Regions from separate parts of the Homo sapiens genome. Here region 2 is linked to region 1. The links come from fine-mapping of genetic effects on gene expression. A gene starts in region 1. The other region holds a variant in brackets. All regions are shown on one strand. Distances are between the middles of the regions. Region 1 holds the start of PDLIM5 (PDZ and LIM domain 5). Region 2 overlaps PDLIM5 (PDZ and LIM domain 5).

The links. PIP is the estimated chance that this variant, and not a neighbour inherited with it, causes the effect.
Region 2: its variant is fine-mapped to the expression of PDLIM5 in whole blood (INTERVAL, PIP 0.98).

The regions. Positions count from the first base shown.
Region 1 is chr4:94,448,697-94,454,075 of GRCh38, forward strand. PDLIM5 (PDZ and LIM domain 5) reads left to right here and starts at 3,246. Exons shown (of 13, transcript NM_006457.5): 1 at 3,246-3,299. RefSeq lists silencers at 2,896-3,315, 3,486-3,745.
Region 2 is chr4:94,620,707-94,626,085 of GRCh38, forward strand. The region is part of intron 8 of PDLIM5 (PDZ and LIM domain 5); the gene reads left to right. Among named protein-coding and RNA genes, the nearest start is that of BMPR1B-DT, 130 kb to the right of the region's middle. The variant A/G (reference allele first, on the strand shown) is at 2,861.

The sequences.
Region 1 (5,379 bases):
TTTTATGATACACAAATAAATCTAATCAATTGGTTAGGAAAGTTTTCATATGGCTACCATTTATTTAATCCTTACTTGGTGCGAAGCATGCTGTGTAATGTTTTATATATATTATCTCTATTCCTCATGATAATCTCACAAGGTTATTTACAATGATCATTTCCTTTAAGATGAGGAAACAGATAAGTTGCTACCATCTGGAATGCATGGTTCTTAACTGAGCACAGTGCACATTAAACCGGAGACATAGCACTATCTCTAGGGAAGTAGTTTTTAAGCACTGCAGTTTAATAATTACCTGGAGGTGGGGAGGGAGTGTTTGTTAAAAAGATTCCAAGGGCTCACCTACAAGGATTCTGAGTCCAGAGGGGATCCAGGAAAATGCAATTTTAACAAGCTATCCGTGTCATTTTGATGCAATCGGTCCTTTTTAGGACACTTGGATAAATATCAGTCTATGCAAGACAACTTAATTTGGTTAATTTACTCTGTAGCCCAGGATTTAAACTGCAGTAGTAGGAGGAGGTTCAGAGACAGGCTAGCAATTATGGGGTAAAGTGGAATTTGCATAAGTAAGCAACAGTCTGCCCATTCTCAACTCTTCCTCATCACCTCAAGAAGCTTATCCTCTAGTGATAACTCCATAGGCTATCTGCAGTTGATGTCTTTAAATTAATCTTTGTTGATCCAGGATCAATTTAACTGTATCAACAGCAAACAGATGAGAAGGGGCAGAGTTGGGACTCCTAGAGGTTAACTCGAGCCATGGCCCTGTGGAACTGGCAGAAGCTGTAATTGCTTGCGACCTATTATCTATAAATGAGGATGACATTCATTTTATAAAGTTCTTGTAAGGACTACCACACTGCATAGCACATGGTAGGTATTTGCTAATGGTAGCTATTGTTATTTTTTTTTTATTTTTGGGTGAGATGTCAAACATGATAACATATATTAGACTCTCTAAACCAGCTTTCACACTAGGAAACACTTTCCCCCAAAGCCATCTTTTGAAAAATGTGGTGAAAGCTATGGACTGGTGCTGTCCAATGAAAATATAATGTGAAGCACATATGTAATTTTATTTATTTATTTTTTTAGAAACAGGGTCTTCCTTTGTCACCCAGGCTGGAGTGCAAAGACAAGATCATAGTTCACTGCAGCCTCGAACTTCTGGGCTCAGCAATACAAATAGCTGGGACCTGGGACTACAGGCACACTACACGACGCCCAGCTAATTTTTTGGATTTTTTTAGAGATGGGTCTTGCTATGTTGCCTAGGTTAACCTCAAACTCCTGCCCTCAAGCCATCTTCTCACCTCAGCCTCCCAAGTGCTAGGATTATAGGTGTCAGCCACTGCACCCTGCTCACGTAAGTAATTTTAAATTATCTAGTGGCCACATTTTTTTTAAAAAGTGAAATTAATTTTAATCAAATATTATTATTATTACTCTTTTTTTTTTGGTGCGGAGTCTTGCTCTGTCGCCCAGGCTGGAGGGCAGTGGCATGGTCTCGGCTCACTGCAACCTCTACCTCCCGGGTTCAAGTGATTCTCCTGCCTCAGCCTCCCAAGTAGCTGGGATAACAGGCATGCGCCACCACACCCGGCTAATTTTTGTATTTTTAGTAGAGACGGGGTTTCGCCATGTTGGCCAGGCTGATCTTGAACTACTGACCTCAGGTGACCCACCCGCTTCAGCCTCCCAAAGTGCTGGGATTATAGGCGTGAGCCGTCGCGCCCGGCCATAATCATGTATCATTTAACAAAACATAAAATATGATGATTTCAGCATATAATCAATATAAAAATTATTGAGGCATTTTACATTATTTTTTCATACCAAGTCGTCGAAATCCAGTGTGCATTTTACACTTCCAACGCATTTCAATTTGGGCATTATATTTTCAACTTTAGTCCTTAAATGTAGTGCTTAAAAGAAATGTTAACGACCTGGCGCGGTGGCTCATGCCCGTAATCCCAGCACTTTGCGGGGCCGAGGCGGGTTGGTCACCTGAGGTCAGGAGTTCGAGATCAGGCTGGCCAACATGGTGAAACCCCATCTCTACTAAAAATACAAAAAATTAGCCGGGCGTGGTGGCGCACGCCTGTAATCCCAGCTACTCAGGAGGCTGAGGCAGGGGAATCGCTTGAACCCGGGAGGTGGAGGTTGCAGTGAGCCGAGATTGCACCACTGATCCCAGCCTGGGAGACAGAGCAAGAATCCGTCTCAAAGAAAAAAAAAGTAAAGAAATGTTATCCTGCTTCAGTTTTAAATGTTAAATTATTTAAAATTACGTAAAACAAAAAATTCATGGTCTCAGTTACAGTAGCCACATTTCAACTGTTCGATAGCCACATGTGGCCAGTGGCTACCGTTAGGGAAAGAGCAGCTTTGGATCTTCGCCTTTGGAATTTTGCTTGCACTTCTGGGGGCCGGGGAGCTCACGGACCTCATGAAGTTCATCCTTGCTTTATATGCTCCTTGGTTAAGAATTGTCCTTTTCACGTTTTATAAGCCAATTCACAGTGTAACAGTCTAGTTACTTTCCGTATGTTCAGTGAACATTATTCACGTTTTCTTATGAATAAATTCCTCGGGCGTATCAAGCAACCCTATAGAAGGCTGGAAAGTGGACTATTGATTTGGATTTAGAAAAATAAACTGAAGATACAGTGGTTGAATCACTTTTGGCCGCTTTTATGTATCACTGTCTTCTGGTGTGATGGACAGGGTTAACTTCTGTTAGGGTTACTGGTTTTCACCTTCCTGACAGGTAAACTTCTGGGTCTGCACTTTTCAGAGCATGTAAAGCTCTTTCAAAAAAAAAAACGCAGGCAGTAACCGCTGAACTTGCATAGATAGAGATTTATCCAAAGTACCCTTCTATTTTTAGGCAGAGCAACTGCTTGCCAATTTAAATTTCTGGAGAGAAAAATGCACCCACTACAAAACGGACGAGCGGAGGGTTAGACCTTTGCCAGGTAGCGCTCAAAATCCGCTAAGACTACTCCCACCGAAACTCGGTAGCGCAGTTGTCTTTCCGCAGCTGCTTCAGCCAGCCCCAGCAAGCCCGAGCGCCCGGCGCCGCCGCCACCTTCCCCGCCCCTGCGCGGCGCGGCTGGGACTGGCCCAGAGGCGTGGCCGGGAGCGGAGGGGCGTGTCCTGGGTCGGGGGTGGGGCGAGGGAGAGCCAGGAGGCGGAAGTTCCCGCGGGCGGTGGGGACGGCGCCCTCACCGCGAGTCACTTGTCAGCCCTTGTCTGAGGCGGAGGCAGCCCCGCGCCGCGCCGGACCCGAGGTGAGTGGCGGCCGGCCGGCGATGCGCCTCTCGGATCTCCGGTGGGAGAAGGGAAAGAACCGGCCGCTGTGCGCCGAACGCGAGAAGGGAAGCCCGGTTGGGGACGAGGAGGGGGCGCTCCTCGGGCAGGGATGGCTCCTCAGGTGCTTTCTGGGCGCGGAGCGGCGGAGGTGGGAGAGCAGCTTGGGAAAAGGAGCGCCCGGAAAAGGGCAGCGCTGGAGTCCGCATGAGGCCAGAGGGCGAGCCCTGGGGTCCCCGCAGCCCGGGCCGACCGGGACCAGCGTAGCGGAGACGGGGACGCGGGAGGGCGCCCGGAGGTGGCGAGGGCCGGCAGGGACGGGCACTGCCGCTCCCACCCACCCGGCTGCCGGCGTCGCCCGGCACCACCGTGGTGTGGTGTCTGAGTGCCCAGTCCTGCGCCAGTCTCTTGGAGGGTAGGAAGCGGGACTCAAAGGAAAAGGCGCGTTAGTTTTTCTTTGCTCCCAGGCTACTGAGAAGCATTTATTTCTCCCCCAGATATTTACAGTTTTGTGTAACCTGTTTGGGGAAAACTTCTGCGCGTCCAGAAATAAAGCTCGTTTAAGAAACACATTTGTCATGAACACGAGATTTGTTAACACTTGAGTACTTGTTGGGGCTTTTGTAAGACTGTGCCTTCGGTGCGTTTTACAATAAGTGGAAAAAGGAAGGGCGTGTGGACAGGGCAGAGCTTGGAAGGAAAATTCGTGGCGGCGCTGGGCAGGGCAGATTTAGGGTGTGATCGCCAGATCCTATCCCAAGTCCGCCTTCCTGACGGGGAGGACGTCTGAACCCGCCTGCCACGGAAACGGCCCGTTCGGTAGCCTTATTTGGCCAACAAGGCTAGGCGCGAATCCCTCCTGGAAAACTGTCCTGTCGGCTGCTTTCATCCTGTGCCTGTGGCTTTAGTTCTTCAGCTCTACCTACATTCTCTCTCCATTGCGGGGAAAGAGAATCTCAAGATATTTCTCTTTAATTTCAGGCCTTTTTTTTTGTCACTCTGTGTAGTTCATCTTGAGTTCTCCTTTCTCCCCTCTCACCCACTAATGAAGCTGAGATACAAGTGTGGGAAATACCAAGCTTCCTTCCCTAGTACTAGAGCAAAGACATTGTTTAGACTTTCCCTAAAAGAAAATCCATAACTCTACAGAAATTCCAACCTTTTCGACGTGTTTGAAAGAGTATGCTGCTATTTCCTGCCTGCTTGGTATTTGAGGAAGGGCTTGGGCACTAATAACCAGATGGAGGAGTCTTGGAAAGGCCAATAAAAATATTGCCATTGCTTGGGGCAGAGACTGTTTTAAGGCAGATGAATTCCAAATGAAGCTAGCAGAAGAAGCATCTAGAAATGAACGGACAGTGACTAGAAATGAAATGACACTGGTTTTGTAGTGTGGCTGTGACCTTGCCAGTGCTAGGAATTTTAATAACAAATGAGAGAAGTTAGGAAGGGAATCCCCAAGTAAAGGGAAGTTGCAAGTACATGGGTTGATAATCTAAATGAAATACATTTTCTTGTAGGGAAGAATGGGGCCAGAGGAAGTTGAGCCCAACTTTCATATTATTCCCCAGACACAAGTTAAAGATTAATAAAGGAGGGCAGGCTGCCTGTGAAATATCAGTTGGCTTTACACGATTCTGATTTGTATCGTGTCAATATCAGGACAGTCCTTCTATTAGTTTTCTGAAAATCTCCTCCTTTTATAGCGGGAAAGCAATTGAATTATGTGTGGCTCGTTATTAGCTTCCCACTAGTAGTTTTTCACCTATATATACAGTTTGACTTCCGGCTTGGCCTTTGGATCTTTTTTAGTGCTCTGTGCCTATTACTTCATTACTGAAGTAATGTGTTATTGCCTTGTAGTTCAGTATACTACCACGCCAGTAGAAAAGCTGTTTCGGTTTCTGATACAATTTTCTGTAATTTTTATTTTCCCTGATATAATTTTTCTTTAAAAACCAGGCTTATTTGAATGTTTTGCCCCATTTTCCCTTTATGAGAAGAAGGAATGTTTGCTTTAAATATACCTATGGCTCAAATATCTATATCTGCAACTATGAA
Region 2 (5,379 bases), 170 kb after region 1:
TTATTTATACAGTCTATTTTATAGTGGCATGTGTTAACATGTCACTAATTTTGCTAAGAAGCTAGAAGTGGCTGGGCACAGTGACTCACGCCTATAATCCCAGCACTTTGGGAGGCTGAGGCGGGCGGATCACGAGGTCAGGAGATCGAGACCATCCTGGAGATCAAGATCACCTGATGGGTAAAACCCTGTCTCTACTAAAAATAAAAGAAAAGTTAGCCAGGCGTGGTGGTGGGCACCTATAGTCCTAGCTACTCAGGAGGCTGAGGCAGGAGAATCACTTGAACCCAGGAGGCGAAGGTTGCAGTGAGCCAAGATGGTGCCACTACACTCCAGCCTGGGTGGCAGAGTGAGACTCTGTCTCAAAAAAAAAAAAAAAAAAAAAAAAAAAAGCTAGAAGTATTTCTATTGTGTTGGAAAGAGGACAGGCCATGGCATATGAGTTAGACTATTTTAGAGGAAAGACTTTCATTACTTCTAAAAACTTAAAACATTTAGTCTAATGTTATTAGTCTCTGAAATTTCTGGACTACTAAAAAACACTTAGTCTAATATTATTAGTCTCTGAAATTTCTGGACTATTAACTGACTTACCATGATCTATTCTTTTGGGGAAAAAATGCTAAGCTCAGCCCCATACATTTTTGAGTTATTTCTATTTATTTAAAGCCTATGTATGATGATGAAGATTTTCTGTAATTACTTTGTGCATTTGAATACAGAAAGTAATTTTCAGAAAAATGCTATTGGTATGGTAATTGGAAGCTAACAGGAGAATGTTTTGTAAAAAGCAACGAAAAGACTAAATTTCTGAGGTAGAAACCGAAGAGAAGGCACAAAGTATATGGACAGTGGAGGACAGAAAGTTTATATACGGCCTTTGGAAGTTCAGAAGTTTATGGTTAAAGTACTGCTCTGCCTTTTAAGTGGAAAGAAAAAGTTCATTTTTTTGAACTCTTGGCGAATATAGTACAGCAAAATTACCACAAGAGGGCGATGGAGTGCTTTCTCCAAGTCTAATGAAATTTGTGAGAATAATCAAAGTAGGCCAATATTAGCAATTATAATAATGAGTCACATGGTTAGTGTTTAAAACATTATGCTTTTTCTAGAAAATATAAATGAATTTTATATGAGCAAAACTACAATATAAAACATTATACATTATATAACATTATAAAACAAAATTATAAAAAGAATGTTTTCCTGTTGTGAAGTCACAGTTGAATTACATCATAATTCTTAGCTCAATTTTGAAAATATTTACTGAGTTCTTATTTATCTTGCTCCAGGTGCTATAAACAGGCATTTATTCAGTTATTACGTTGTGGCAAAGTTAACTTATTTTGTACTATTTTGGAAAATTTAAAAATAAAAACAAAATTCCCAGCCACTCAAATTCTTCTGCCCTACACAATGGTATACCATAGTTTAAAGACAATAACAACAACAAAATCATCTCAGAATGTACTCTTAGTCTTAGATAAATAGTTTCAAAAGCTTCCTGATGCAAATGAAAAAGTCTTTTGATTTAGAAGGTGATAGCGGATTCATCATGTGTTTATGCGTTCCTGTTTAAATTATGGATAGCAGCTTAGGTAAATTTAGTTCATTAGATACAAATGTATGTATAAAATATTACTATCTTACAAATGTAATGAAATGTTTTTCACAAATTCAGTCATAAAGTCATGAAGAGCCTTTCTGTGTTGGAACACATCAGTTTTCTAATTTTAGTTTAATCATATACAAAATGAGAATGAATAATTCATTAGAATATAAGCAATGCTTTGATAGATCTGGACCCGTTGTTCATTGAGCCAGTTTTCTGACTGGTGGTGGCCCCCCAAAATAGAAATGCCTGCCCTTTGCAGGTATGAATTTCAGAAGGTTAGCATTTTTGTGAGCCTTTTCCCTCTCTCCCTCCCTCCTTCCCTCCCTCTCTCCCTCCCTCCCTCCTTCTCACCTTTCCCTCCTTCCTTCCCTTCCTCCCTCACTCTGTCGCCCAGGCTGGAGTACAGTGGCACAATCTCGGCTCACTGCAACCTCCACCTCCCAGGTTCAAGTGATTCTCCTGCCTTAGCCTCCTGAGTAGCTGGGACTACAGGTGCCTGCCACCACACCCAGCTAATTTTTGTATTTTTAATAGAGACGGGGTTTCACCATGTTGGCCAGGATGGTCTCAATCTCCTGACCTCGTGACCCACCCACCCCGGCCTCCCAAAGTGCTGGGATTACAGGCATAAGCCACCACGCCCGGCCTCCATTTCTTTAACTATTAAAATAAAGACCTTAAAAGCTTCTCCTATAGCATTCTTGTGAAATCAAATGATATAACTAGGCTGCAGATACTTAGAGGATACTCAGAGGTTAACTTTCTATGCCTTTATTCCTTTTCTTGATGGCATTAATAACTTACATTGTTACTGTCCAAAAACTGGTTCTCATGTGATGTCCCTGCTTGAAAATGTTTGGGGCTGTCTGCTGCTGGTCAAAATGCTTAGCTTCTTAACAGAATTTTTGGTCCCCTTGCAATCTCAGGCCAACCTTCTTCTCCAGCTTCATTTTATAACACTGTTCCCTATAGTCCACTCACACTGAAGTTCATGAGTTCATATCATTCCTTGGCACACACTTTTCTGCTTTGTACAAGCTGCTCCTTTTATTTGAAATGCTTTTCCATCCCTTCTACTCCTGACAAACTTCTCTTTACCTTTTAAGACCAGCTTGTTCCCCCTTTGTGAAGCTTTCTTGAGCCCTCTTGTTACCTGTTCTTTTTCAATACTCCTACAAAATTTCAATAATGTCTTTGTTATAGCATTCATCCTGTTCATTTTAATTGTTTACATAGGTGTCTTTT[A/G]CGACTGTTTTTAGATTCCTTTGAGGACAGGGACCAAGTCATACTGATCTGTTTTACAGCATCTAAACAATGCCTGGCACAGTTTATAGGCCCTCAGTAAATGTCCCCGAGAAAGTGAGTGGGTAGAGAAGTCAGTTGTCTTATTTAGGACATCATACGATCTGAAGGATGCAGAATTCATCTGCCAGGATATTGTTCTGTCCTCCTGCCAAACTTGAAATTCCCACAACAGTCATTGAAAAGGTGGGAGCACTGTCTGCCAAAGGCTGCTATTAGAAAATAAGCATGTTGCTAAGGAGAAGGGAGCTCCACTCTTCTTGAAGCATTTAACTCTCTTCAGAATTAAGATCGTGAACATGAGCAGTACCATAACTAGTAATACATTATTTATTTTTGGAAATTAAAAAATAATAACAGTTGTAAAGCCCCATGATAGGAATTTTTTTTTCTCAAAAGTATGAGGGCTAGGCACTGTGGCTCACACCTGTAATCCCAATAGTGTGGGAGTTAAGGCAGGAGGATTGCTGGAGGTCAGGGGTTTGAGACCAGCCTGGGCAACATAGCGGGACCCCCATCTCCACAAATTAAAAAAAAAAAAGAAGTTGGCTGGGCATGGTGGTGCACGCCTATGGTCCCAGCTGCTCGGGAGGCTGAGATGGGAAGATCTCTTGAGCCTGGGAGGCGGAGGTTGCAGTGAGCCAGGATTGTGCCACTGCACTCCAACCTGGGTGACAGAGCTAGACCCCCATCTAAAAAAAATGTGATAATTTACTGCATATAAGGAACCAAGCAGTGGAATGCAGAGGAAATATTAGGAATGTGGGATCGCCCATTTTGTCATTGTGGACAAATTAGCTCGGATGCAAAACACCAGTATATAATATAGAAATCATCAAAAAGGTGCAAAGAAGAGTCAAATCAAACTATGAGTCCCAGTTCAGAGGCATGGAGGTGTGGATCAGTGGAAAGGGAAGAAAAAGACTTAAAGTTCTGAGGATACAATCTTGAGGTAAAATATGTATTTGTTTATAGTGAAGTCCTATTTTATGCAGGAACAATATTTTAATGTTTGTGCCTAAAACAAAATAGCATGTAGTCAACGACCCTTGAACATTTTTAGGAAGAGGCCGATTTGGAGAGGGAGCAACATATGCAAAAACTGAGAGAATTTGGCTTCGGGTAGGAAAGACAAGTAGTTCAGTATGTTTAAGACTGTCTAGTGGCCCAGAGAGAAGGTTGGCTGCATTAATGGGGGTTTTGAATGTAAGAGTGTGGACTTGATGCTGAAAGGAAGCTATTAAAACATTTATAAGCCGGAAGTGGCAAAATCAGACTTGCATTATTAAAAGATTATTATAGCATTAATGTGTTTAAAAGATCATCATGACTTCATTGTAGAGATTAAGGTTGGAGACCTGGAGACCATTTAAGAAGTTATTCAGGTAATCCAATCTGGAGATAGATAATGAATATTGCCCTGGGCAGTGGCAGTGTTTTGGAGAGAATTCCCTGGGCAGGGTGACTGCAGGGTATTTACACTTTAACCTAACTGGGCTGCTGGTTTTAACCATTGCCCTCTCTGGGAACTTGACTCCCTATAGAGTACCTATGTATCCTCTGTTAAAACACCCGTGGAGGATTGTATTCAGTTTATAGCATATTAGAATGCTACCTTCATACTTTCTTTAATTGTGTGTACACACAACTCCCAGTTGAGCCCTGTTTACTCTCATGTCCCTGGTGTTGACAAGAAATTAGTGGATATTATTAAACGTGTCCATGGAGGCAGGCATTCTACTGAGGAAAATAAAAACATATATTGATATTAGTTGATATGATATTATGGCGATATACTCAAGGCAGTAGTATTTTATCATTTAATATTAGACTTTTTTTTTTTTTTTGAGACAGAGTCTCTCTGTGTTGCCCAGGCTGGAGTGCAGTGGCGCTATTTAGGCTCACTGCAAGCTCCACCTCCCAGGTTCACGCCATTCTCCTGCCTCAGCCCCCCAAGTAGCTGGGACTACAGGCGCCCGCCACCATGCCCGGCTAATGTTTTTGTATTTTTAGTAGAGACGGGGTTTCACCGTGTTAGCCAGGATGGTCTCGATCTCCTGACCTTGTGATCTGCCCGCCTCGGCCTCCCAAAGTGCTGGGATTACAGACGTGAGCCACTGCGCCCGGCCAATATTAGACATTCTTAACCTCTGATAGTCCGTATTGAACAGATAACAGTTTCTCTATGCTCTTGTTGAGGCACCATTCCCTTTATGTGAATTAGGTGATATGTATATAAGCTTTATCTTAGTGATTTGCTTTTCTCTGTGAGACAGTTTGGATATGTAGTAAAGACAAAGGCTCTTAATTGACAAGAATGTAAAAACAAAAGTTTATGATTCTTTTTTAGAATATAAGTTGTTTTGTGTTTTGAAGAAGCATGATACAAGTAAGCTATACATATAAAAGTTGTGACCATTTGAAGGTCTTTTGGGGACAGTATAAATTTCTTTTGATCAAAC